Linked DNA regions of Homo sapiens. The protein of the gene in region 5 purifies or fractionates together with the protein of the main gene of each other region. This does not show direct contact. Each region holds a gene or a part of one and is shown on either strand. Other genes may lie near its edges. The genes, in order: PFDN4, PDCD5, PFDN1, SYNGAP1, TRAF7, TM9SF4 and FAM167A.

Region 1 (4,022 bases), on a different chromosome or scaffold from region 5:
TTAGAAAATATAGTTATTTTTAAAGTGTGATTTTTATTACCATGGAATGGAGTTTTATATTATTTTAAATGAATTAATAAATACATTTTAAAAATTCTGCTTTAATTTCTAATACAGCAAATATCGATAAATAACCCACATAAACAAAAGTTCTTTGGAGTCCTCAGTAATTTCCAGGAGTATAAAGAGGTCCTAAGGCAAAAAAAAAAAAAAAAATTACTAATTGGGAGACACAAGTGTCAGAATATACAGTAATTGTTCAGTAATATTGCTGTAAATTAATTAATAGGATTGCCTAGTCACAACAGCAAAGGCATGGAATCAACCCAGATGCCCATCAGTGGTGGATAGGATAAAGAAAATGTGGTCCATATACACCATGGAATACTATGCAGCCATAAAAAAGAACAAAATCATGTCCTTTGCAGCAACATGGATGCAGCTGGACATCATTATCCTAAGTGAATTAACACAGAAACAGAAAACCAACCACTCATGTTCCCACTTATGAGTGACAGCTAAACACTGGGTACTCGTGGACATAAAGGTGGGAACAATAAATGCTACGGATTCCAAAAACGGGGAAGGAGGCAGGGGAAAGGGGTTGAAAAATTACCTGTGGGGTACTATGTTCACTACTTGGGCAACGGGATCATTAGAAACCCAAACCTTAGCACCATGCAGTATATCCATGTAATAAACCGGCACACATACCCCCCGAATTTAAATTAAAAAAAAATTACATTAAAAGATAGGAGTACCTCCTTTACACCACCTGAATTATCATGGCACATAAATCTCACACCCTATTTGCCAAGGCCATTCGTTCCTAGCTGTTTTACAGGTAGGTTAGCTTTCTCAATGCAAGTCTGTGGGACGGATGGAGAAAAATTCCCCGAGCCCTTTGATCCTGCCCCAGCTGGGCCCCGCCGCGCTGAGCCTTGGGCGCGCCCCCTGCTGCCCGCGGCCGGAGCCGTTCGCCACACCCCCGTGTTTATGTCGGTCCACGGGGGTTGCCTGTCCCTTTAATTGGCATGTACCAAGTCCTTCCAGGTCACATTTCCTCCCTACGTCCCAGCCGTTTGGACTCACTGGCCAAAAGTCCAAGAGGACGGAATGTGGAGACAGTGTTGTATTTTTGCGGGGAGTTCTAGGCCGACCGGGAGCGAGAGAACGCTCGGGGGCGAAGCGCGCCATTGCGGCCCTCCCCGCCGCCTGCGGTAGTCCAGTCCCAAGATGGCGGCCACCATGAAGAAGGCGGTGAGTGGGGAGCTCGGGGCTCTGGATGCTCGGGCGGCGCCGGATCTCGGCCGCTGGGGCCCGGGCGCGGGATGCTGGGGGTGCGCAGCTCCGAAGCCCGGCGTGGGACCCGAGGCCGAGGCCGAGGCCCTGAGAGCGGTCCCGCGGCAAGGCCTGCTCGCGCCTGGCGCCCTGAGCGTTTTCCTAGGCACCTGGCCAGCCGAGGCGGGGCGCCGGGGCTGGGGCCGGGAGCCTCGAAGGACGCAGGTCCGCCTCCCGCGATGCCGAGGGTGCCCCCGGGGAGTCTGAGGAACCTGCAGCCCCGGCCTCGCCCCTGAGGTGTGGGAAGCCGAAGGTCCCGTTGAGTGTGGTTGGCCTTGACTCGGGCGTTGCACCGGCATGATCGCATTAGCCTCACTGGTTATGGGTAGCTGCTGCTGGGAGCGTGGTTACGGGTGAGGAAACTGAGGCCCAGAGATGGGGAGTCACCTGCCCGAGGTTACGCAGCTCATAACGGGGACAGCAGGTTCCTGCATCCCCAGATTAGCAGGCCCCAGAGACCCTGTGTCCAACCTGGAGCTGCCCATTTCCACGCTTGATGCCCCTGAGTCCTTCAGGCTAAAACCAGTATTTATTGAGAATGGAAGATGTGCCGGGCCCAGCAGCCGGCCGTTTATCTGTTATCCTCCCCGCAACTCAGCAAGTGCAATGGGTTCCTCTCCACTTTGCAGGTAGAGAAACTTAGACACAGAGCAGTTAGAGGCCCTAAAGTGACTCAGCTAGTAAGAAGCAGAGCTGGAGTTCAAACTCAGGTTTGTTTTTGTTTTTCTCAAAGCACGCCTGTGTAACCACTAAGCCGGCTAAACTTCCATGTGGGGTTTTTAATCCCGTGAGCCTTCCCAGATGTGTAAAGATAGTCAGATAGAAGAAAAAGAAAATTGGAGAGGGGGAAGGAGATAACGGCTGATAATTTGGGGAGCTTTACAGTGTGCTAGGTACAGCTGTAAGTTGTTTTGCGTGTATTGTTTATTTTATGTTCTTTGAGGGAGATACTGTTTTTATCCTTATTTAACAATGAGAAAACAGGCGCGGAGGCAAAGCTAGCATTTAAACACAGGCATTCTGACTCCGGAGTCTGTGTTTTAAACTGCTATAGGGGGTCTTTGATGAGAATCTCTTGGCTGGAGGGATTTGCGTTCATTCCACTTTTAAGACCACATTAGAACTTCTTTGCTTTGCCCCTATCCAGTACCACATAGTCTATGCCATCTGTGCCTGGTGTAGGGTGACCCATTGCCCCCTTTTATATGAAATTGAGGGACTGCCAAAAATGGGAAAGCCCCAGCCAACTCAGGATGTGTTGCTCACCCTACTATTCTGCCATCCAAAAATTCTTACTGTGTCCCAGAGTAGGGTCTAGGGCCATGGTGATTCAAAAAAGTATGAAACTTTGTGAGATTCACTTCACCTCTAGTTTGTTAAATTGGGCCCTCTGGTGTTAGGTATGGCCTTTAATTCCTTGGAAGATACTAGTTGTGGTTCACTCCGTTTTATAGGTATGGAAACTGAAGTGCAGAGAGGTGAAGTAAATGGTAGAAGAGGAAATGGCAGAAGAATGATTTGAACCTTGGATTTTGATTGCAAAATTTCTAATTACCAACTTTTTTTTTCCTTTCATTGATTCAGTAAATTTTCGGGGGCACGTAATATGGCGTAGTCTCAGTTTTAAGTGGAGACAACTGTGGTGACCAGTGAGAAAGCTCTTCTCCCCTTAATCTCATAGCCCCAAAGAACGTATGTTCCAGGGCAGAGCAGGCATTACTCAGATAGTCAGACAGAAAACTAGTTTCTCTGATGAGAACTGTGAAGGAAAAGTGCTTATGAAATGAGGGCCAAAATGAGGTCTGTTTTGAGATCAGAGAAGACTTTCCTGGGAAAGTGCCATTTAAGTTGAGATCTGTGAGATTATGTAAGGAAAGGAAGGGAGAGTTGGATAGGGAGCGAAGCATTCTAGAGAGGAGTATCTGCAGAGACTCTGAGTGCATTTAATACAAGGAAGGCCCGATGGCAGATAATCAGGGGAAGAGAGTTTGAGCCATGATGGGAAAAGAACTTATAGAGGGGTAGGTGGTGGCCAAAATATAAAGGAGCTTCTTTAACTTTGGAGGCTTTAAGAGTCACATGATAGATGCAGTGTCCTCCTGTAGATGTTTCCAGTGTTAGGAACAATTCCCGATAGATTAGCTTGCATGTACACTTTTCCCCTTTGCCCTCACTAGGAGAAAACATATGTGTATGCCAGTGAGTGAGAGTGAAACAGAGAGAGATAGCCCTTTGAGTTTAATTAAAAGCAAATCGTACAATCTGGAGTACTTTACGTTTGTAACACATCGTATCTCTCAACTGGTCATGACTTTGCTGGGGAGAGTGTTTAGATGAGATGATTCAGTCCTCTCCTCTCTAGAGTTCTGCCTTCTAAGATCCAGTTCTTGACCATAAGGAGATCTGCACTTTGATTTCTGTTCATTATCCTATATACAAATGTCCTTTCCTCAGAGAGGCTACCTTTGACCTTTATCTAAAGAAGCCTCCTTCACTCCCCAGGCCCCCAAAACTTTCTACTCCTAAGCTGTTTTATTTTCATCATCACGTTTGTCACCATTGAACATTATCTTGTTCATCTTGTTTTTTGCTCTCTTCCTCCACCAGGATGTATGCTTGCCATTTGTATTCATGAAAGTGGGATAGTGGCTCTCTTGTCACAGTGCATGGCGTATAGGAAA
Region 2 (4,114 bases), on a different chromosome or scaffold from region 5:
CATGGTGGCGGGTGCCTGTAATCCCAGCTACTTGGGAGGCAGAGGCAGGAGAATCGCTTGAAGCTCAGAGGCAGAGGTTACGGTGAGCCAAGATTGTGCCACTGCACTCCAGCCTGGGTGATGGAGTGAGACTTCATCTCAACAACAATAAAAAAAGATGGGGTCTCACTCTGCTGTTCATGCTGGAGTACAGTGGTGCAATCACAGCTCACTGCAGCTATGATCAGCTCAAGCTCCTGTGCTCAAGTGATTCTTCCCCCTCGGCCTCCTGAGTAGCTGGGTCTACAGGCTTCAGTCACCACACCTGGCCTGCCACAAACTATTATATCACAGAACCCTAAGATGCCATCAATTCTAAGATACACCATAGTTTTACGTATCTCTAAAAATGAAAAACCCTAAAATGAGAGGTCTAATAGAGATCTCCATTCAAAACTGGGGTTTCTCGGGAGGCCAAGGTGGGAGGATCACTTGAAGCCAGGAGTTTGAGACCAGCCTGGGTGATATAGCGAGGCTATTAAAAAAAAAAAAAGTTTAAAAAAATTAGCCAGGCATGGTGGTGCACGCCTGTCATCTCAGCTCCTCAGGAGGCTGAGGTGGGAGGATCACTTGAGCCCAGCAGGAGTTTGAGGCTGCAGTGAGTTCTGATCCCACCACTGGGGTATCAAAGAGCAACATTCTCAGTACAAAGTAAAGAATAAATAAATATGCCATGCAGTAAGGGGCAGTACAAAAGCTTGCATGCACCTGGCCCTGACGTAAAGAAGAAAAAAGTTCAGTCTTACAGGGTTGCTGTCTGAATTCACACTACTAGGCAGGAGGCAGGGGAAAACCTCAAGCAGAGAATTTAACTTTCAATGGTCTCAGAAATGTACTCAAGTGATAGCAGAGTCAAAAGTAAATCCCCTCTGGAAGAATCTGGGGCAAGAGCAATCTGTTTTAAAAGGCATCCTGATTTCAGATATGTGACAATGAAAAGATGTACACGGCAGAAATCAATGAAATTTGCGTCGTTTTACTTCCTATCACTACTCCAGATACTTCTCACCGTCTGTCTTCTCCCGAACCCTCCCTTCCTATTTCTGTAGACCCAGCACAGTGCCTGACCCAGAGCAGGTGCTCTATAAATATTTGCTGGAGAGGAGGAGTAAGAAGGTGAGGAAGGGGAAATAGAGAATTGTCCAGTAGCTAAAGGTTTCAGTCTTGCAAGATGAAAACATTCTAGAGTGTGAACACTACTGAAGAGCACACTTAAAAATGGTTGTGATGGTGAAATTTTATTTAACCACAATTTTTAAAAAATGATAGCATGATAGGGTAATCACATACTCATTCAATAAACCTGCCACCGAATCAATTACCTGCATCTGTCTCAGGTGCTGTGCGCTGTGTTGGGATAAAACAATCAGAATAGCTTACCAGTTAACACTTATTGAGCACTTACTAAGTGAGGCACCGGACTCACGTCACCCCCACAGCCGAGGAAACTGCCACAGCTGCCTATTATCAGGCTCATTTTTAAGGTACTCACATTGTAGCAGAGAAACATCAACCAGTAATTGCAATACAAGGTCTGATGTGGAGCTGCACACGTGTTTATTTAACAATAATGAAGATACCCTGCGGATGATTTTGGCCAAATCACCATTCCAGCAAAACAAAAAAATCTGAGTCACACACCTGCTTAAAATAACTACAGCAAAAGAAATCCATTTGGTGAAACCACCCTTCAAAAAGTTCACGTTTCCAGCCCATACCTGTGCTTTGCTTCCTGTTGGGCCGCATCACCAGGATCCTGGAAAAAAAAAACTTAAATTTAATAGAGAAATTTCACGGGAGGCGGCGGGAAAAAGGAACGGTTCTGTTGTTTCCTATACATAACAGTCTCTTGCGGTGGTAGAAACAACTCCCCAAATAAGAAACTGGGCCTCACAGAAATCAATGAACTAGTTCCCACTTACAACGTTTTGATGAACGTCTAAAACCACAACCTCAGAAGGCTTTGGAATACAGAGCACCCTGGGGAGGGGAATCCCTGTATTACGAAACCGTGTTTCACATGTAGGAATAATTTCTGGAAAATAAAACGGGCCTCGGTATTAGGGACAACGATAACTCAAAGACTGCGCCCTCCGTCCCTAAGGTCCCGGTCCCTTATCAGAAACGCCTCTCCGGGCGTGTGATCCATCCAAGCTTCCCAGGCGGCCCCTCCCTGTCATCCCGGCGGGGCAAGCGTTCCTCCGACCCTGCCGCGCTCTCAGCACCGGGAACACAGCGGACCCTCAATACCTGTCGGCTAAACTTGGGTCATAACAACTGAACTCCGGAAAAACTGAATTCGGTCCGGCTGCTGGCTCCAAAAGCTGAGATTGTGCTTGGATCCAGGCCCGCCAGGACGAGCCCGCTCCAGGCTAGGGGACCCCACACCCCAACGCCAGGGCAGGTCCCGCACGTGGCGGCCCCCGCCGCCAGCCTCCTGGGCCCCTCGCGACGAGGAAAGCGACGAGGCCACCTCTGAGCCGGCCACGAGGCCGCCAGGGCAGCGCAGGGGACCGGGGCCCCGGGGAGGCGCCCAGAGCCTCCGCCCCGGAGGCGCGCCCTACACTCCGGGCGAGGGCGGCGCCCCGCGAGGGCCAAGCCTGGCGGGGGCTGATGCGCTCACCCCGTGTTTGGCCTGCAGCTCGGCCAGCCTCTGTCTCCTCAGCGCCTCAAGCTCCTCGTCCGCCATGGCTCGGCGTCAGCGCTGGAGCAGCCGCGGTCACTCTCGCAGCCCCTCGGCGCGAGCGCGGCCTTGACCACTGCGCAGGCGCTCGCGGGGCCCAGGCGCCACCAATCCAGCCCGGAGCCACGCCCCGCGCCGCTGCCAGGGCGCCGGCAGAGGCCCGATTCCCCGATTTCAGGCGGTCGAGCTTGGGCGCACGGAGGGGCGGGGCCTGGGGCGGGGCCTCCGGGATCCACCTCCCACCCGTGATCGGCGCCTCTGCGTGCAGGGACTTGGGCTGCGCTGGGGCGGGGCTGCGCTTTGGAAAGGTTAAAACCTGAAAGTGTGGCATCAACAAGTATAATAATTATGGGTGCAATGTGCTGGTGACCTAGAGGGTTAGGCGTATATTATCTCTATTTATAGATGAGGAACCAGGGGCGCAGGAAGGCTGAGTGGGGTGATGGAAATGTCCTAAAGCTGGATCGTGGCGGTGGCTGCCCGGCTCCTCGGTGCACACAGAGGCCGGCCGGTGGCTCGCCGCCTGTGGTCCCGACGCTTCGGGAGGCGGTAGGGTCATTTGAGGTCAGGAGTTAGAGACCAGCCTGGGCAATATGGCAAGAGCCTATCTCTACTAAAATTTTAAAAAACTAGTTGGGCGCGGTGATGTGCACCTGTAGTCCCAGCTACTCAGGAGGCTGTGTCAGGAGGATCGCTGGAGCCCGGAAGTTCGAGGCTGCAGTGAGCCTTGATCTCGCCACTGCACTCCAGCCTGGGAGACACAGCCAGACCCTGTCTCTAAAAAAAAAAAAAAAAAAAAAAAAAGTGCACATCTGCCTCCTCGCCATCTGCCTCCTCCACGCACAAAAGGGCTTTTCCTGGGAGGATACTGCAGTGGGCAGCTGTGGCTGGTGTAAACTCTTTGGTGGAACAAATCCCTTCTGCCTTTGACTTGGGGGAATTGGGGGCAGAGAGGATATTCAGCTACCTAAACGTGTGACTCATACAGATTCTGTTTGTTTGTCTGTGTGTGTGTTATTTTATTTTTTACATTAAAAAAATACAGATGGGGTCTCGCTATGTTGCCTAGGCTGGCCTCTATCTCCTGAGCTCAAGCAATCCTTTTGCCTCAGCCTCCCAAACTGCTAACATTACAGGCATGAGCCACCACACCTGGCCTGTGTGTTTTAATTGTGGCAAAATATACACAATACAAAATTTACCATTTTCACCATTTTTAGGTGTACTTTTCAGTGGTATGAAATGCATTATCGTGCAGTTGTCACTCAATCTCAGCTCACTGCAACCTCCACCTCCCGGGTTCAAGCGATTCTCCTGCATCAGTCTCCCAAGTAGCTGGGACCACAGGCGTGCACCACTGTGCCCGGCTAATTTTGTATTTTTTAGTAGAGA
Region 3 (3,500 bases), on a different chromosome or scaffold from region 5:
TTTACTTACTTACTAACTTACTATATTGACATCTTTACATGTCAATAAAAAAAATATTTTTTTTTAAATTTCGGTTTGGTTTTTTATTTAATTAGTCATTCTTTTTTAAAAAAATTTATTTATTTTTTAGACATGGGGCATTGCTATGTTGCCTGGGCTGGACTTGAACTCTTGGATTTAAGCAATCCTCACACCTCAGCTTTCTGAGTAGCTAGGACTACAGGTGCATGCCATTATGCCTGGCTGCCCCCTTGGTTTTATCTCCTGTTTTGTATCCTATTTCTGTGCCAGTGTGGATACTTAAGGTCTCCAGGATTCAGCATAAACTCTCAGGATGAAAGCCAATTTACTGCTGTCTTACATTCCTGAATTCCCAGTTTCACTTCACTTTGGACCTTTGTGGAATCCTTCCTTTTGTGTTAGTTCAACAAAATGTTAAAAAAAAATTTTTTTTTCCTTTGTTTCTAATCAGGAGTGTTCAGGGTATCTACTCTTCATTATGCCAATAACAGAAGTCTGTAACTCACTGAGCAGTCCACAATGTGGATGTGCCATAAAGTTTTAATCACTTCCTTACTAAGGAAGTGATTAAAGTAAGAAATAAATTCAATTTAAAAAAATTTTAAAAAAAGAAGTTCAATTTATTTCTACTTGCTTCCACGCTAAAAATTACGACGTAAAAATTCAGTAACTTTCCTCACCAGTGGAGTTAGGCAAAGAAGCAAGATAGGCTCATTCTTTTTTTTTTTTTTTTGAGATGGAGTCTCGCTCTGTTGCCCAGGCTGGAGTGCAGTGGCGCGATCTCGGCTCACTGCAAACTCCACCTCCCGGGTTCACGCCATTCTCCTGAAGATAGGCTCATTCTTATGTCTTTTCTATGCTGCTTAATTTGTGAATACCCTGAAACCTAAATGCTAATAGGATACGTTTTTAGACACCCTCTAAAAATTTCCCACCCAAAGTGAACTCGTCATAAGCATTTTGTTGTTTCTGAATAGCATATGTCTAGGTGACCATACTTTGGAAATTGTGTCCAAAATGCAGCAGTGCAAGTGATCTGGGATTGTGTTTTGGGCAGGTGAACAATGGTTTTGATTCATACTGAGTTATAAGAAAGTGGAAGTTGTACCAAACTGCAGGATGATTTAGAAAACGGAGTCTGATGTTTCTCAAATAATCAAAACCGAAAGTCTCAGAATTATGTTTTCAGATGGCATAATTACAAATAAATGAGGAAGTGAAATAGCAGGTTACAAGTCCTTGAGAGTGGACAGTGCAGAGGCACGTGGCACTGATTTCCAGGTCAAAGAAGAGGCCTTTTGCAAAGCATCAACTCGAATTCAGGTTATATAATCCTGAGTATTTTAAGCATGTTATCTGCATATTATTTGTCATGAGAGAATACTTTCCCTCTTCATGGTTTATTTTTCCTTATTGGTACATTTTGAACTCCAGAATTCTTTATTTACTATTTGGCTTTCCATAAACAATCAGGCAGAATGACTATGAGATTCTCTACATTGAGCAACTGTGTACATAATATTTGCTTATGATAAGACTTATATTATCATGATAAATCCTTTCTCTTCACATAGTATCTGATAATCCAATGCCCTTTTAAACAATAAGAAAGATGTTTTCCAAAGACTTTTTTTCAGAAATCAGATGTTTCTTGGAGCCTTTTCCAGTCTTCATACAATATATCTTTGCCATTTTTTAAATTGAGGACTAAACCAAACTTTCCATAAGTTTTTGTGTTTGAATTTTTACTGTGTAACTACTCTTTGAGGTAGACATTTGCATTTACCCAACATTCATCCTTGTTAAAACTTGCGTGGCTGAGATGTCCTTAGGTTTGTAGTAGTAAGTTGGCCAGCTTCGGTGGAATCTCTCTGGCCTTTGAAGTTGGCACAGTCCAGTATAGCTACCTCAAAGGATATGTGGTCATGGAAAAACGTGTTTTTGTTGTTGAGTGTTCTTGCTTTCTAGTAATTTTATTTTCTGCTCAAGAGATTTAGTATCTGTTCAGATACTTTATTTTTAAAGGCCACATAAGTAATGACTTGACCTCTAATCTTAGCTTTGAAATTTTCCCAGACACTAATAAAGATGATGTCTGATGACCTTTTATTTGAGAATAGTACTCATTGGCCAGCTATCAGTGCTACTTAAAAATGTATATTTTACTCAAAAAATTATTTCCATGGCTAAAAGACTTTCTCAGTAAAATCACACATGTCATGACATAATTTGGTGACTCTTGCACCTTGTTTTAGAATAGTTTTTACATAACATTACTGAGACTTAGTACTGTTCAAAACAACTCTTCTCTTCAAATACAAATATGAGTTAGTTCTGAGAAAAATATTCTGTAAACCATAATCTTATCTGAAATAGCACCCATCTCTTGGATCCAGTAAGAATATTTTAGACATGAAGGGTTCTATAGTAAAAGACCTGGAATTAATCCTTGTTTTGCATGAATGTGGGCTCTCTTTCCTGTAAATATACAGTAAGGTTTTACAAAGAATCAAGTTACTACTGAAGACTAAGATCATCAGTTGGGCTGGGCTGGGCGTGGTGGCTCATGCCTGTAATCCCAGCACTTTGGGAGGCCGAGGCGGGCAGATCACGAGGTCAGGAAATCGAGACCATCCTGGCTAACATGGTGAAACCCTGTCTCTACTAAAAAATAGAAAAAATTAGCCAGGCGTGGTGGTGGGCGCCTGTAGTCCCAGCTACTCGGGAGGCTGAGGCAGGAGAATGGCATGAACCCGGGAGGTGGAGCTTGCAGTGAGCCAAGATCATGCCACTGCACTCCAGCCTGGGCAACAGAGCGAGACTCCGTCTCAAAAAAAAAAATTATCTGGGCTGGCCGCATTAGGATATAAGCTTAATAATTAGTGGAGTAAAAGAAGTTCTTCAGATTTTATTAATATGTGTGGTAAGGCTTAGTTATGAAGAAGAGGGGACAAGGCAGTTTCCTTCCAGGTGTTGGGGCATAGCTAATTGCCCTTTTTGGTCTGTTTTTACTTGTCTTATATCTATAATAACGGACTCTCTTGATAAGAACCCACCTAGGCACAATGATGTTTTTGTGGGGTTGGCAGAGGAAACTGCATGTTGCTACCTTGATGTGTTTTCTCGTTTGACTTTTTGTTAAGAGATGATGTTTAGTTCTTTGTTGCTGAACTCTGTTAGTGCAAAGAGAAGAAAAATCTTGCTTAATTAATTGCAATATTAAATTGAAATATATTTTAGCTTCCTTAGACAGTCCTGAAAGAGATTTGCATAACTGGGGTCTTCCCTTGGTTCCAGTGGAGGGGAAATATTTCAGTTCACTTACTTGGGGCTATAAAAGTTTGTTCTTCCTTTCCCTGAAGCAAGAATTGTGAACATAAAGTCATAAAACAGTTTCAGTGTTAATTTTTAAAACTTCTCCATATTTCCACCCTCATCAGTGGTAAATAATGTGCCTGATGTAAAATGGAAAAAGTTGA
Region 4 (3,500 bases), on a different chromosome or scaffold from region 5:
CACTGCTGTCCTGATTGGGACGATGGAGGCCTGGAGGTGTCTGGATGGTAGAAGTCTTTGAGGCACAGAAAGCTGCCTTAGCAGGGAGGTGTAAGGGTTCCTGGGAGGAAGGTGGAGAGCATGATCCTGAGGAACAGGGAGTCTTGCATCACGGCAATGGAGGGACTCTGATTCTAAGGGATAAGGATGCCTGAGGTTTTTCCAGAGAGCTATGGGGTTCCATGGGCAGGCTCTGAGCCTGTGCCCGCCACTAACCCCACTGAAGCCCGTCCCTTCAGGCTGATGCTGGTGGAGGAGGAGCTGCGCCGGGACCACCCCGCCATGGCTGAGCCGCTGCCAGAACCCAAGAAGAGGCTGCTCGACGCTCAGGTGGAAATTACAATGTCATTTATCTTCTCCGTGTCCCATCCCCATCCATCCCACTGTCTTTCGTGCACTCACTACACCAGCCACCTAGCCCCATCACCATCTGTCTCTCATAGTCTGCTGTTTGTCCACTGGCTGCTCCTGGCAGCCCCCTAGTGACCCCATCTTCATCCCATCGTCTGTGCCTTTGTCACTCCTGGCAGCGTCAGCCCAACTCCTGTGCCTTCCCATCCAGTCTTCCCACTCCTCTCTGCATCTCAGGACCTTCTCTACCAGAACCTTGGTCTTTCTGCCCCTAGACCCCACCTAGTTCCAAGAACCCCTGCCCCTTCTTTGCTCACTCCTATTCAAGCCACGTTGTTCAGCTTCCTCTGCGCTCTTGGGCCAGAGGGCTAGAAGCTGCCGTTTTCTGGAATAGAGCACAGGGCAGTATGATCTGTAGTTTCTCCAGGCCCTGGCCGGTACCCTGAAAACTTGGGGACCCATCACCTCTGTTCTCTTGGCTCCCTAATTTTCCTGTCTCCTTGGCAGCTCCTGCATAGCTTCCTCTTCCTGACTCTTCAGATCTTGAAGGCCTTCCATCCTGTAACCTCCCTTTGCCCTCAGTATTTAAGTCCAGCCTCCCTCTGGCCTCCCTCCCACTCTGGCCCTCAGACCTTCCCAGCTGCCTGCTGCCCAGCCTCTCTTCTCACAAGCCAGCTTCTAGGACCTCCCTTCTGCACCCTTACCCCTTGCTTTCCCAAAATTCTGCTCATTTTCCTACCCATACTCCTCTTTGCTCTGACTGCTAGGCTCCCCCCGCCTGCCATCCCCCCACCAAGGCTCCTGACCCCATGACCCCACTCTCTCCCACTGCAGCTCCTCATCAGGTAATTCTCCTGGTTCCGCTTTGGCCACGGGCGGAGGACACAGGGGGAGGTGACTCCGGACCACTGCAGGTTGGTCGTGAAGCCCACTCCCTCCAACACCTCCGGAGCCTCTCCCCTCTCACTGCTGCCCTCCACACCCAGAGAACCTCCACAGACTCCAGCCCTCCGACACCTGCACAGATCCATCTCCCAAGACACCACCCAAAGAGAGCATTTGCTGCTGCTTCCCAGAACTGTCCAACAATACCTTAGCAACACCAAGAGTTGGGCCCTAGATGGGCCCAGCACATTCACAGGTCACACCCACTTCCCTGCAAAACCCACCCCCTCCCAGCCTCCTCCTGACTCTAAGCCCTCCTCTTCCTCTACCTCTCCAGTGTATGTCTGTCACCCCCCATTTCACCAGAGCGTCCTTAGGGGCTGGGGGTGGGTTTGTTAATGGGGTGGAGGCAATGATGGGTTGGAGGATCTTGGCTATAGGGGCTGTGCTGACTGCAGCAGGTAGGTTGGGTTTCCCTCTTCCTTCCCTAATCTTGGTTCTCTACCCTCCTTTCCACTCCTCACCTGATTCTCTCTCTTCCTCCTCCTTATATCTGTGAGGCAGAAGGCATCTGAAGCTCATATTAGCCCCCATTGGGTGGGAATTAGGAGTGGGTAGTTAACTCAGGGAGACTTGAGATACCCTGGAAAAAATGCTATTGAGATGTCCTGACATTAGGCAGGGTGGATGGAACAAGAAGGAGCAAGAAAGGAACCTCAGGCAGATGTTAGGACATGGACTTGATCATGTGGCCTGGGAGTTTAGAAATGGGGAGAGACATCCTCCTAGATCAGATCGTGGGCTCAGTAGGCATGTTGATTCCCAGGGAGAGGTGCCAGGAACAGCATGGTAAAGAATGTACTCTTCACAGCTCACATCCCCAGGTTGCTGATGCCACTCACTCCCCCTCTCCTGCCATCGAGTGGCCTTGCCGGACACATCACCCTACCTAAAAAGCCAGTAAATGAGAACCTGTCAGCTATAGCCATCATTTCTGAGATGCGATTTTCTTTGGGATTGAGCTGCAGTGGGCAGTGGCTCCTTACACTGTAATTTTAATTCTCTGCCTGCCCAGCCTCTCTGTCAAAGTAGCTGGTGATCTATAAAGATGCTAAAAGGCACCAGGGGACTTTGCCATTTAAAGGACTCCTGCAGTGAATTCTTTTGTAAAATGAATAATGGCACCCTAATTTATCCACTTTCTAAATTTGGGTCCATGGGGGTGTCCAGGGCATGCTTATGTGCTGTCACCAGCAGACAAACAGAGGGAATGGAATCTGGGGGTTCCTTCCCTGCTCTCCCGCCATACTCAGGATACCCTACCATAAGTGATTTCCTCTCACTGACTTGCAGAAAATGTGTGAGATACCCAGCAAGCTAAGAAGGCAGTTTTGCTGGGTATCTCATACCCAAGGCTGGGGTTTGGGTGATCTGAGAGGTTAGCTCCTTGATCCTAGGATGGAAGGGAGAGCTTATATAGAAGCTTTTACTTGGAAGGTTTTGTATCCTAAGGTCAGACATAGCTATATTACCAAGCCTAAATGCCATGTGGCCCAGGAAATAATTTGGACATTTGTTCTAAACCACTTGTGGTAGGTATTGGTCTCTCTGCAACTCAGCCATTAATTAGAAATTAGTTTTGAGCCTGAATTTTAAAAAGCCAAGTGTTGCCCCCAGCCCACACACACACACACGGACATGTACAGTACAAACCCCAGATAATTACAACAGCCAAAGAGAGAAGGAAGTGAATTTCCCAACCAGAAGCGTAGGGAAATTCAGATGGCTTTCTTTTCTCCCAGCAGAGGAACAGAAGGCGGAGCTAAGGGCAGGAACCAGGAGTTGGTCAAGGAGCTATAGGAGGTGATGAGAGTAGAACCAGGGGTAGGAGCTGGTCTGGTACCCCTCACCCTCTAATTGGGAGCCCAGGGAGAAGGACTGAAAAGAAGATGGGAGTGGAAAAGAATAAAGCCAGTTTCTGCTTCCCAGGGATGCAGAGATTGGGGCATGCTGTGTCTGCAGAAGCTCCTAGTCATTTCCGCCATAATTGTGAGAGAGAGGGGCAGCCCTCCCACAAGATTTTTCCCTTCCCATATCACTTCCCTGAATCCCCTTCCTTTCCCCCCAGTACAGTTAAACCTCTCTCTAATTTGGAATGTTATATTTGAGAAGATGGCCACTGTGAATAAGTGACAAACGGAATGACAGTGTCTATTTAATGAAAT
Region 5 (4,272 bases):
CGCCCTCATGCCAGCGTGCCACCGCACTGCCACCTCCTTTCCCACACCGTCCCACGGCCCTCAGTCCTGGCCCTCTGCGTCGCTGCCCCCTACTTCCCACCTGGGTGCTTCTGGGGTTGGGTCACCTCCACCCCGAGTTTCCAGGCAGCCGGCTTCCTCCAGCCGGGTGAGGGTGTCCGGGTCTACACGTGACCAGCCCCAGCCTCCAGTGCCCGCTTTCCCCTTTCACCTGCCCCACCTGGCTGCACCCTCCTCCTCCAGGGAGCAAGGCTGGGGACAGCAGCGGATCTGTCAAAGACTAAGGGGTTGGTGGGTCCCTCTCCACAGGTTCCCCCCGCATGATCCACACAGAGGGCCTGGTGAAGTCCTCGGTGCCCACCCACTGAGAAGGCCGGACTGAGACACACGCAGCCAACAGCTCTCGGCCCTCCCCACATGCCCTCCCTGACCCCGCAGGGTGTCCATCCAGGAGATGCTGTGACACCGTGGTCAAGGCCACAGGCACTGGGCTCAGACAGAGCTGGGTTCAAAGTCCACTTCTACCACTTCACAGCTGTGTACCTGCCCTCCTGGCCTCGGGCTTCTCGAAAAACGGAATAGAGCCAGAACCCTGTCTGGAAGGAGCCGAGAGAAGATGGATCCGTCAAGAGTGAAGGCACCCCAGACAGCAGCTCCTCTGCTGAGTGGACCATGGAGGCTGAGGAAGGCGGAGAGGCCGGCCCAGGGACACAGCCAGCAGGCTGTGCCGCTGTGACCAGAGTCACATTCCTTCTGCTTCGTCCACGGCTGCCACACATCCAGGAGCCCCGGCAGCGCCTGAGCCAGTCCCATGCCAAGCCGGGGAGTGGCTGCATCCCAGAGCCAGGCTGCCCAGGCCTCCTGGCCAGGAGGCTCTTCAACTGCATCTTCCTCCTTTCCCCAAACTGCTCATTCCTTGTCCAACCAGCTGGCCGAGAGTCACACCAACCACGGGGTGCCAGGCCCCATGCGGGAGGGTGGGGATGTGTGACGGCTGAACACGAATCTGACCCGGGAGGAGCTAGGAGCCTTGTGGGGGACACAGGCAGACAGAGGGGCAGGAGCCCCACCAATCGCCACTCAATCTGCCAAAGGCACTTTTCGGTGGGTGCCAAAGACCCTGAACTTTTCCATTCACTTCCAGAAATATCGTAACACTTGGCCCCAGTGGGCCACGGTGGAAGTCACTTCACCAGAGACCCTCAGGTTGGGGCGTCAGGTTGGGGTGCTGACTCCCAGCCCCTCCCCTCCTTAGGCCAGGCTGCCCATACCACTGCTCCCCCTCAGGACACGGGGCCCGAGGCTTCCACAGAGAACTATGAATGCCCAGAACAGTGAAGTCAGGATATTCGCAACAGAGAGGCACAGGGAAGGGGTCTAGGAAGGGAGAGGCCCAAAGAGAAGGAATGAGGAAGAGGGAGGCTCCTCACTTGGCGAGGGCTAGGGGGCCTGTGTGTGCCCAGGAAGGGGTCTGAGGGGTAGTGAGAAAGGTGGGCAGACAGGCTGGGCGGCATGAAATTCCTGAGCAAGCCAGCAGCCCCTCACCCCCAAGAGCAGGGTGGGCTCCAGCAGGCCCCTGCCCCTGGACTCCAGACTCAACCCCAGCTGACCACTCTGGCCTGGCTCAAGACAACCGTATCTTGACAGCAGGACCCCAGTGGGGACTAGGAGACGATGGCCTAGCCTCCCTCTCTCCTGCTTCCCCAGTGAACTCTGAAGTCTGTGGTCCACACACAGTTAGAAAGCTCTTTACTGGACCTAGATCGGACCGCCTCTCCAGCGCTTCCTCAACCCCAAGTCATTTGCCAGCATAATAACCCCCCCGCCCCACCCCACCATGCACCCTGTGAGCCTGGTCCGGCCTCATCGACTTCACCTCTCCACTTGCCAGTGCTTGCTGGGGTGCGTCAGGCCCCTTCTCACCCCAGGCCTATGTACATCTGGCTCTTTCTACTTGGAATGCTCCTCCTGCATGTCCTGGGACTGGCTGCTTCTCCAACAGGCCTTTGGCTAACGGTAGCGCCGCCCCTACCCCCGGCCAGTACTCACTTTTTCAGCACCCTCTTTCTTTCTTTCACAGCACATACCGCTGCTCCCCATGATTTTAACTACCTATTGTCAATCCCACCACCCTGTCTGTCTAGATGGGGGATGGGGGGAGTTGTTCCGCAGGAGGCATTTGCCAATGCATGGAGACATTTGTTATCGCAATTGAGGAAGGGGTGGTGTTTACTGGTATCTAGCGGCCAGGAGCCAGGCAAGCTGTTCCACATCCTACAATGTACAGGGCAGCTCCTCGCAGCAAAAAGCGACCCGGGCCGCGTGGTCGATGGTGCGGAGGTTGGGGAACCCTGCAGCAGACGCCGAGCACAGGAGAACTGGGACCGTGTTCTCCGCGGTCTCCCGGCGCCCAGAACAGTGCCTGGCACCCGGGAGTCTCGGGGAATGCAGGAAGAAGGAATGAGTAAAGAACTGCGCGAGAACAGGACGGAGCGAGGGACGGACTACTGACTGGCGGACGGACAGCGACGCGGACCCCGACCCTGACCCCGACCCCGACCGTCTCAGCCCCGCCCCCCCCTCCCCGCCCCGGCCCGACCCCTCGCCTCGCCTCGCCTCGCCTCGATCTCCACGCGCCCGATCCCGCCCCACCGCGCGGTCCCGAGGCGCGAGCCCCGGGTCGGGCGCGCCGCGGGGACACTCACCCGCCCGCGGCCGCCCGGGAGCGGCAGCGCCGCCAGCCCGCTTCATGATGCCCCCTCGGCCGCCGGCCGGGAAAGGGACTAGACGCGCGAGCCGGAAGCGCCAGGCCGCTGCGCCCGCCGGGACGTGTAGTTCCCCGCCTCTCCGGGCCCGGACGGCTGCCTCACGCGCCGCACTTCCGAAACTACGACTTCCGGCGGCCTCGTCGTCGCGGGGCGGGAATGGCAGCTTCAGAATCACTCTATGTTGCAGATCGAAGTCTGATTGGCTTTGTTCATCCGTCACTCACCGTTAGGCTTCACGGACTCTGCATAAGGGAGGAGCTTCGGGTCTGGGTCTGAGAGACCGTCTCCAAAAGAAATGCCACGGTACGATTGGTGGAAACAACGCGGCAGGGAGCGGAGCGTACCAGCGGCGGGGGAAGGCGGGCACTTCCGCCAGGATAGCCCAATGACAGAGGTGGGACAGTTTCTATAAAAGCTTGAGCCTCGCCCGCCCCTGTCTTTTCGGGGTCGAGTCCGAGGGGGAAGAGGTTTGTTAATACGTTCGCCATGTGCTACGATCTTGGGACGAACTGAGCCACGAGCGTGGCTTTGAGGGCCGTCCGAACGCTGCAGGCCGGCCAGGTCCCTGGGCGTCCAGGCCTGGCCTACGCACCACTTTGTCCCTTAGCGTTTAAAGGTTTCTTCCCGAATCTCAGGCCCTCAGCTACCTGCAGGTAAGACTGGGCCGGGCTTGGGTTCCCTTATTCTCCCAGTCTGTGATGAATTGCTTTGACTTCTGACACCTCGTATGAAAACTGCACGTGCAGTCTGATTATTTAGCAAGACTGAGGCTTGAGGGTGCGCACTCCTGACGGGGAGCTGAGAGTGGAAACAGGTGTTGCCCGAAACGAAGGAGTGGGGACTTAATGTCTGTATTTTGGCGCTGACTTTCAGGTTTCGTCGCGAGCCGGCTGCAAGTTTTGAACCTAAGTAAACCTCAATCCGGAGGGCCTAGCGGTAAGGTGGGCGCTGTGTCTATTGAAGTGCTTAGCAATAAAGAAAGGTAGTGAGTTGATTCGGTTTTCTCTCAAGTGTCTTTATTTTCCTATTCTGGCACCCCAGAGGTCTGGCTGATCCACAGGCAATCTTGGAAAAGGGTACAGACATGAAAACGGAAGCTCGTTACCAGTGACTTTTCATCTCTTGGGATTGCCTTCTCCATTTCTGCCCGTGATTTTTTTTTTTTTTTTTTGAGACGGAGTTTTGCTCGTTTCCCAGGCGGGAGTGCGATGGCACAACCTCCACCTCAAGCGATTTTCCTGCCTGAGCCTCCCAAATGGCTGGAATTACAGGCGCCCACCACCACGCCCGGCTAATTTTGTATTTTTAGTAGAGACGGGGTTTCTCCGTGTTAGGCTGGTCTCAAACTCCTGACCTCAGGTGATCTGCCCACCTCAGCCTCCCAAAGTGCTGGGATCACAGGTGTGAGCCACCACGCCCAGTCAAATACTGTTTTTCATGCCTTTTGCCCCAGGGTGAGTCCAAAAAGGCTTTTGAGATTTGTGGA
Region 6 (3,022 bases), on a different chromosome or scaffold from region 5:
ATAACAGGACAGAGTGACGCCGGAGAGGAGCACAGTGGAAAAGGGGAAAGAGCCCTAAGGCTATCCTTTGAGCCCCTGGATCCAGCCAGACCTGAAGCAAAATAAACAAAATCCTTGATGACTTAAGAACCAATCAATTCATTTTTGGGCTAAAACCAGTTTGACCGATGTTTCTGTTGCTTACAATTGAAGAACTGGGTTTCATAGAGTGAGATGAGCTGACAGTAAAAGACTGAAGCTGGGAATCCAAAACCAGATCTTGCTGCTACCAAAACACACTTGATTGTCATTTCCTGCTTGTGGGATCAGAAGAGCAAATGACTGCAATTTAGTATGGAGGGGCTAGGCAATGGACTTGTACCAGGCAGGGAACAACAGTGGCTTGAGCCCTGAAGTGTGACACGAGAATGAGCTTCGGGGGAAACTGTGCAACTCAACCCACTCGGGGAAGGTGTCTCACCTCAGACCTCCAACCCCTGCATGAGATTCAAGACAAAACAGTAGGACAATGGTATATTTATTTACAATCCGACCAAAAAAAGGCATACAGGCATTTTTTTAATTAAAAATAATAATGATAATGATTTAAAAAGTCAGAAAAATTGATGATCTTTGAACCCTTTATGAGGTGTCCGTTTCCCATTCCCCCTAAAAAGAGAATCTCTTAGGGAAAAAAAAAAATCCAAGATTTGAATGAACAAAAGACTCCAATATCGCTCTCTACTGCTTGGGTTCCCTTTTCTCCAACTTGATGCTTGGTGGATGCCGCTTGGCGCTGCAGTCACTGTGAGGCAAGATTGAGAAATTCACTGGTTTGATGGGTGAGGCTGGTAGAGCCACTGGGAGAATGTGGGGCAGTGAGGGGAGGGACATCTTCCTAGCATCACCAGCATCCTGAGCTTTGTCTTGTGTTGGGAGTCCCACAAGGGCTGGTGCAAGGGTTAGCAGCTGCTACTTGAACCCTAATCCCTGGGTGGATGTGGTCTCTTGTAACTTAAGAGCAAATGTTTGTGATGACATGCACGGGTGGGCAGAGGTTGAAAAGAACAGGGGTCTACGGAGGAGCCAGGCCAGCCACGTGAGACCCTTCTTTCTAAGTTGGCTTCTTGTCCATTCCTGGGGATTGGGGAAAGAACGACAGAACTTACCTTCCATCTTCCTTCTCACAAGCAGTGTTTTGGGTGTCCCCAAAAGGAGGAGGCAAGAACTCAGGTGTGGGGTGGAGGGGATGGGGCTGGCTAAAGAAGTGAGTATGACCCCAGAGGCCAGAGAGGGCAGGGAGAGAATGCCTGGCCACTTACAGGAGGGGATCTGTAATCTCTGGGCCTCCCTGTTCTGCCTGAAGTTGGGCAGGGCCCACTGCTAGCACACCTTGGAGAGCGGTACCTCCTGAGGAAAGGGCTGGGGAGTGATCCTGAGGGGTAAGGACCCTAGCGGCCTTGGCCATCCCTTCCCAGACACAGACAAGTGGATGCTTGGCTTGGGAAATACTTGGCCCCAGGTCCAGGGTTTCTTGGCACAAAAACAGTTCACTGCAAGTCTCTTCTCTTCTTCCTTGTGGTCCAGCAAACTCCGGCTGCTCTGAACAGGGGCAATTCCTGCTGTCTGGGGAACCTGGCCCCCAGTACTTCCAGGGGATTTTCTTGTAGCAACTAAGACTTGGGTTTGCTCCTGGTGAAAAGATGACCCCGAGGCCTGGCTGGAAACCCTGCCTTGGGCAGCCCTGGAGGAGGCTGGGGAGAAGAGGGAAAGAGAGGTCTGGCAGAGGCTGGCTGGCACTGAGGGTGCTGTCCGAGCTGGAGCTGTGCTTTGTCGTGGCCTCAGTGGTGAGGATGGGCAGGGAGAGGCTCGGAAACCTCACTGAAGCTCTGGCGTGTCCTCTTCCAGTTAGTCATAGGGTGGCCAACAGCCCTGAGGAACTGAGGTGGAGACAGTGACCAAAACCCTTATCTCGGTGGATTTATCCATCCTGGATCCATTTGTTAAAACAAAGAAGGAAAAAAAAATCCAAACCAGAAATACACCTGAATAAACAGGTCAGAGAGTTCCTGTTGGAGGGAACTTTCTTAGCACTGAAGAAAAAGCAACCCACAAAAAAACTCATCCCCCACAGAACTGGAATAAGATGACGAAAAACGCAAGATTATCTACAGGCCCTCCCGCCCCCCACGCAGCCCCAGGATCCAGGAACACTGTGCCAGGAGTTACATTCCAAACGAGCAGGAGTTATTTTATTTTGCGTGCCTGCAGTCCCCCACGCAGGGTGGCTTCCTGTCCGAGGACGGAGCAAGCTTGGCCGTGGTCCACTCCAATCAGTCTATCTTCACAGCAGCATAGATCTTGCGAACAAACATGTAGGCTGCATAGAAGCCGATGGTACCCGTTAGCAGCCAGAAGGACAAGACCATGAGGGCCGTGTAGCCAAAGTAGAGGAGAGAGGGGATGAACTCCACGATGTCCAGCTGCGGCCACGAGCAGAAAGAAGACAGGGTGCATGCTTAGTGCCAGGCTGCATGGCGAACTGGGGCCCCACTCTCACTGATATCATGGGGAAACTGAGGCCTGGCCAGGGGAAGGGGCGTGCTCCAGTGGGTGGCAAGCGGCAGGCAGGGTTCATGGGCACAGCTCTGCTTCATCTGGACCAGGCCTGTGTATTGCCCTAATGCTCATAGCCTCAGGGGCCAGGCCCAGAATGCCACAAAAGGAATGGCCACAGCTGTGCCCTTCCTGGTCCCCCACAGACCCCAGATCAGTATGGCAACACTCCCGCATGGCTGGAGAAGCAGTCGGAGTGGGTGGGGGAGGGGAGGGGTGTCCAGGATGCCCAGCTTCAGGACCAGGAGCCCCATCAGCCCGCCTCAGCCTCCATTCATTCCTCTCTTCCCCAGAATGCTTGTCACTTTTGTTAGCATCTCACAGAGATTTTGATCTTGGAGCATTTTGGACTCCTTTTTAACTGGGGTAGAGTTTAGAGGCTGGGCAGAGATGCTGGGGATCTGTGTTATTTACAAAGGGAACTAAT
Region 7 (3,500 bases), on a different chromosome or scaffold from region 5:
GCGATGCTTGGGGATGGCAGAGAGATGGATGGATAATGAGTACAACTGCAAACAGCACTGTACACATGTGGTGAGCCAGGAGGCTGGGACGGAGGTTAGGCCAATGTTGCTGCTGACTCATAGACCCACAGAGAGCAGGGACTTCACAAAGCTGAATTAATGTGGTTAGTTGTGTTCACTGTGCAAAGTAAGGAAGCCAGTCAACACTGGACGATGTTTAGAAAACATCGCTGTCCCCCTCCACTTCTCATCTTGGGTCACCTCCTCATCCCATAATAAAGTTCTCTTAGGATAAACCGAGCAAAATAGCTCAGACATTTAACTTATCCCCAAACATGTGTCTTGATCTTAGTTTCCACCCAGAGAATGAAGAAAGCAAGCAAGCACTGGGTTACCCAAGCAACTAAATCACTCAGTTGCATCCAACTTAATTGGACTGACTACATTCAGCTAAATCTTTCCATTTTCGCTGAACCCAATGGTTTCGGTTACTGTAATGACTGATTTCCAAAAAGAAAGAAAAACCTAATTTGGCATTTTTTCAGAATATGGGATGGGCTTTCCTGCATGGGTTCAAGGATGTTTATGGCATGTTCTCTGTCGTGTGTGTGTGTGTGGGGGTGTGTGTGTGTGTGTGTGTGTGTGTGTGTGTAGGTCAGCCCGAGACCTCAAGGGCTTATCTGGAAAGAGGTTGGCAGGAAAGGAATGCGTCTTCAGGACTTGGCAGTGTTTGTGCAGAGCTCTGAGGAAGGACAGCAGTACATGGTCCTCAGGCCTGCAGACTTCATTGCACAGAGCATGGCAGACAGTAGATCTTGGCTGCGTTGTTCTGCCTACTTTGAAGGAGGCATAGAACTTCTGGCTCTTTGAAATTTTAAAAAAGAGACCAAGTTCTTTTCTGTCTACTAGAGATCATTCATTTGCATTGTCCTACTCTCAGCCCACAAAAGAAAAGCAACCTCTCCCCTATGTGGGTCACGATGTGTGGGTGGACACGGGCCCCACTGAGATTACACAGGAAGAAGTCACAGTAGACAGAGCAGCCAGATGCCGTGCGTAGACCATGGGACAGTGATTAGTGACACATGCCCTGTGGGGCCACTGTCAGTGCCTTGCTCCACCTTGACCCAAATGTTCTGAATTGCAATACTCTGGGAGATGTGGGTGGGGGCTGAGGTGGAGAGTAGAGGGGTTGGCAGTGTGCGGGTTTGGCAAAGCATCACGACCATCTTTGGGGTTCAAGTTCATTGACATGTGATCTACTAGGCATTATCAATAATGGTTTCACACATCAATATTCTATAGCCTAAACAGCTGTGCAACCTGAGGGAAGTCCTTCTCCTCCCCCAGGTTTCACTTTGCTCCTTTACTAATGAGAGGACTCGACTAGATGACACCAAAGGTCAGAAACACTCCTTATCTCAGGATTCTACGGGTCTGGCCGAGGGACCCCTGCCATGCCGTATGACCCCAGACTGACCTCCCTAACCTGCTGGGGTCTTAACTTGCTGATCCTCAAGCCTGTTGGGAGGGAGAAACTCTTAAAATCAAATCCTACGCACTGTAGTTGACCTACACAAGTGGCTTCCGCATTTGGACAAAAATCAGTTACTAACAAGTGAACAACACATCAGTAACAGTCTTATTAAAACTAGTTGTTTAGGTCAGGCACAAAATCTCAGAGGAGGCTCAGGATGGGCCTCTGGGCTCCCTAGATTGTCTTTCCAGAGAGGGCAGTAAGGTGACACCACCAGAATCCACCAGGAGGCCCCGGTCACGCCCCTGCAGGAGAATTCAGTTATGGAAAATGCTTTCAGGACCTGCCTGGTTCAGTCACCAGTGGTCTCCCAGGCTGTCACCCTGGGGTGTGGGTGGCAGTGAAGAGGCTCTTTGGAGATGCATGTGGCCAGGGGAGACAATGGGGACATCTGTGCTTGTTGCACCCAAGCTACGCTAGTGCCCCCATCACATGTCCCAGCACACGCCAGAATTTACAATTTACACAGCCTTATAGTGTCAGGCTCACCAGAGACACTGGCTGCCAGCCACTGGGGCTGCGTCCCCAAGTGCCCATTTGTCATGCCTTTCGATTTTCCCTTCCTAGTAGCTCCCTGTCAATGTTGCTGAGTCATGTACTTAGGGTGAATTTGAGACAATACTTAGAGGACAGCAACAGCACGTGAGACAGGCACATCTGACATGCCTAATTTCCCCCAAGGCCCTTGCGGGACAGCCTTCTGCAAAAATGACAGCTTTGTTGGGGGGCCTCCCTTTGGGAATCCCAGTTCATAGCACCAGTGATTCCAGGAAACAGGAACGTGACCGTGGAGGGATGGATTATGGTGGGAACCCAGGTCTCCTTTAACATCTTGGTTGGAGCGGCCCTTCTGCAGAGCTCTTTGGGTAGTAAGCAAGAGCCAGTCACAGAGACACTGGCATCCACACCCAGGGCCCCTGGGTGGGAGAGCACCACTGAATAGGTCCTGGGGCCCTTGAGTCGCCAGTCCCAGGGACCCCTGCCTCCGGGAGACCCACTGGAGTAACTTGGCCTCAGCTTCCTCTGACACCCCTCCAGCCCAAGCCCTCCGCTCCAGCCCCTCCGCCCAGTCTGAGGGCTCCTCAGCAGAGAGAGAACCTCCGAGAGTTGATGTTCATCTTGGTCACGCCAATAAGCTTGAGTGGTGTGGAGAGGCTGAAGGAGGAGGCAAGAGGGGAGTCACAGAAGAGGTCGGCCAGCTCATCCCGCTCCTCCAGCTCGTAGGTGGCATCGTTGAGCATCCTCCTGTGGAGGCGGCAGGTGTGTTCGATTTTCAGCTTGTTGATGTCGCCACGCAGGCGCATGAGCTGTCTGGCCAGTTGCTGGTCCTGCAGCCGCATCTCCGTCTGGAAGGGAGGGGGAGCAGGCAGGGTCAGCAGAGAGTGGCTCGAGTCCCTGACAGGCACAGACTGGTTAGCAGGGCCCTGACTAATGTCTTAGTTCATTAAGTGGTCCATCTAGAAATATTAGCACTTTCCCTGCTCAGGGAGGTGAAAAGACACAGAAAGCAAGGTGACAAATGAGGGTGCGGTCGCAAAACAATACTTTGTGCTAGGCTAGTTGCTGTATCTAAGTCCTTCTGAAAGACATGCATATTGGTCCTGGCTAGAAGATACTTCCAGTGCTTTCTCATTGTTTAGAGTTTCATTTAGATGGAGTAAGAGTATAAAGGAAAACATAGGGTAACAGCTATCAAATTCAGGAGGATGGTTGCCTCTAGGTGAGAAGGAGGGACTGTGATTGGGAAAGGTATATGGGGGCTTTGACTGTGATGGCCATGTTTTCTTTCTTACGCTGGGGAGTGTCATGTTGTTACATTACTCTTTAAACGTTTTAGAATGCCTGAAATATTTCTTAGTAAAGTTTCAAAACAGCCAAACAAAAATTGGTTCCTAGGTACTGGGTGTTTTATTATGAAACAGTTCTAAGGCCTTTGGGTCTATTAACATGCAACAGTTAACCG

The links.
Region 1: the proteins of TRAF7 (region 5) and PFDN4 purify together in Homo sapiens (affinity purification with mass spectrometry; 3 studies listed by BioGRID and IntAct, with this or other methods). This does not show direct contact.
Region 2: the proteins of TRAF7 (region 5) and PDCD5 purify together in Homo sapiens (affinity purification with mass spectrometry, with the first as the bait; one large-scale study listed by BioGRID). This does not show direct contact.
Region 3: the proteins of TRAF7 (region 5) and PFDN1 purify together in Homo sapiens (affinity purification with mass spectrometry; 2 studies listed by BioGRID and IntAct, with this or other methods). This does not show direct contact.
Region 4: the proteins of TRAF7 (region 5) and SYNGAP1 purify together in Homo sapiens (co-immunoprecipitation; one large-scale study listed by IntAct). This does not show direct contact.
Region 6: the proteins of TRAF7 (region 5) and TM9SF4 purify together in Homo sapiens (affinity purification with mass spectrometry, with the first as the bait; one large-scale study listed by BioGRID). This does not show direct contact.
Region 7: the proteins of TRAF7 (region 5) and FAM167A purify together in Homo sapiens (co-immunoprecipitation; one large-scale study listed by IntAct). This does not show direct contact.

What each region holds. Positions count from the first base shown.
Region 1 is NC_000020.11:54,206,865-54,210,886, forward strand, and holds the start of PFDN4 (prefoldin subunit 4), read left to right. Parts: upstream 1-1,222; 5' UTR 1,223-1,236; coding exon 1,237-1,260; coding exon of another isoform or gene 1,261-1,506; intron 1,507-1,537; exon of another isoform or gene 1,538-1,886; coding exon of another isoform or gene 1,887-2,051; intron 2,052-4,022. UniProt on the Homo sapiens protein: Binds specifically to cytosolic chaperonin (c-CPN) and transfers target proteins to it. Binds to nascent polypeptide chain and promotes folding in an environment in which there are many competing pathways for nonnative proteins.
Region 2 is NC_000019.10:32,579,876-32,583,989, reverse strand, and holds the start of PDCD5 (programmed cell death protein 5), read right to left. Parts: upstream 2,801-4,114; 5' UTR 2,729-2,800; coding exon 2,663-2,728; intron 1,796-2,662; coding exon 1,758-1,795; intron 1-1,757. UniProt on the Homo sapiens protein: May function in the process of apoptosis.
Region 3 is NC_000005.10:140,282,602-140,286,101, reverse strand, and holds part of PFDN1 (prefoldin subunit 1), read left to right. Parts: intron 1-3,500. UniProt on the Homo sapiens protein: Binds specifically to cytosolic chaperonin (c-CPN) and transfers target proteins to it. Binds to nascent polypeptide chain and promotes folding in an environment in which there are many competing pathways for nonnative proteins.
Region 4 is NC_000006.12:33,447,565-33,451,064, forward strand, and holds part of SYNGAP1 (ras/Rap GTPase-activating protein SynGAP), read left to right. Parts: intron 1-265; coding exon of another isoform or gene 266-278; coding exon 279-369; coding exon of another isoform or gene 370-372; intron 373-1,224; coding exon of another isoform or gene 1,225-1,239; exon of another isoform or gene 1,240-3,500. UniProt on the Homo sapiens protein: Major constituent of the PSD essential for postsynaptic signaling. Inhibitory regulator of the Ras-cAMP pathway.
Region 5 is NC_000016.10:2,154,310-2,158,581, reverse strand, and holds the start of TRAF7 (E3 ubiquitin-protein ligase TRAF7), read right to left. Parts: upstream 2,801-4,272; 5' UTR 2,724-2,800; intron 1-2,723. UniProt on the Homo sapiens protein: E3 ubiquitin and SUMO-protein ligase that plays a role in different biological processes such as innate immunity, inflammation or apoptosis. Potentiates MAP3K3-mediated activation of JUN/AP1 and DDIT3 transcriptional regulators.
Region 6 is NC_000020.11:32,164,735-32,167,756, reverse strand, and holds the end of TM9SF4 (transmembrane 9 superfamily member 4 isoform 1 precursor), read right to left. Parts: intron 2,463-3,022; coding exon 2,313-2,462; 3' UTR 501-2,312; downstream 1-500. UniProt on the Homo sapiens protein: Associates with proteins harboring glycine-rich transmembrane domains and ensures their efficient localization to the cell surface.
Region 7 is NC_000008.11:11,421,754-11,425,253, forward strand, and holds part of FAM167A (protein FAM167A), read right to left. Parts: intron 2,884-3,500; coding exon 2,620-2,883; 3' UTR 1-2,619.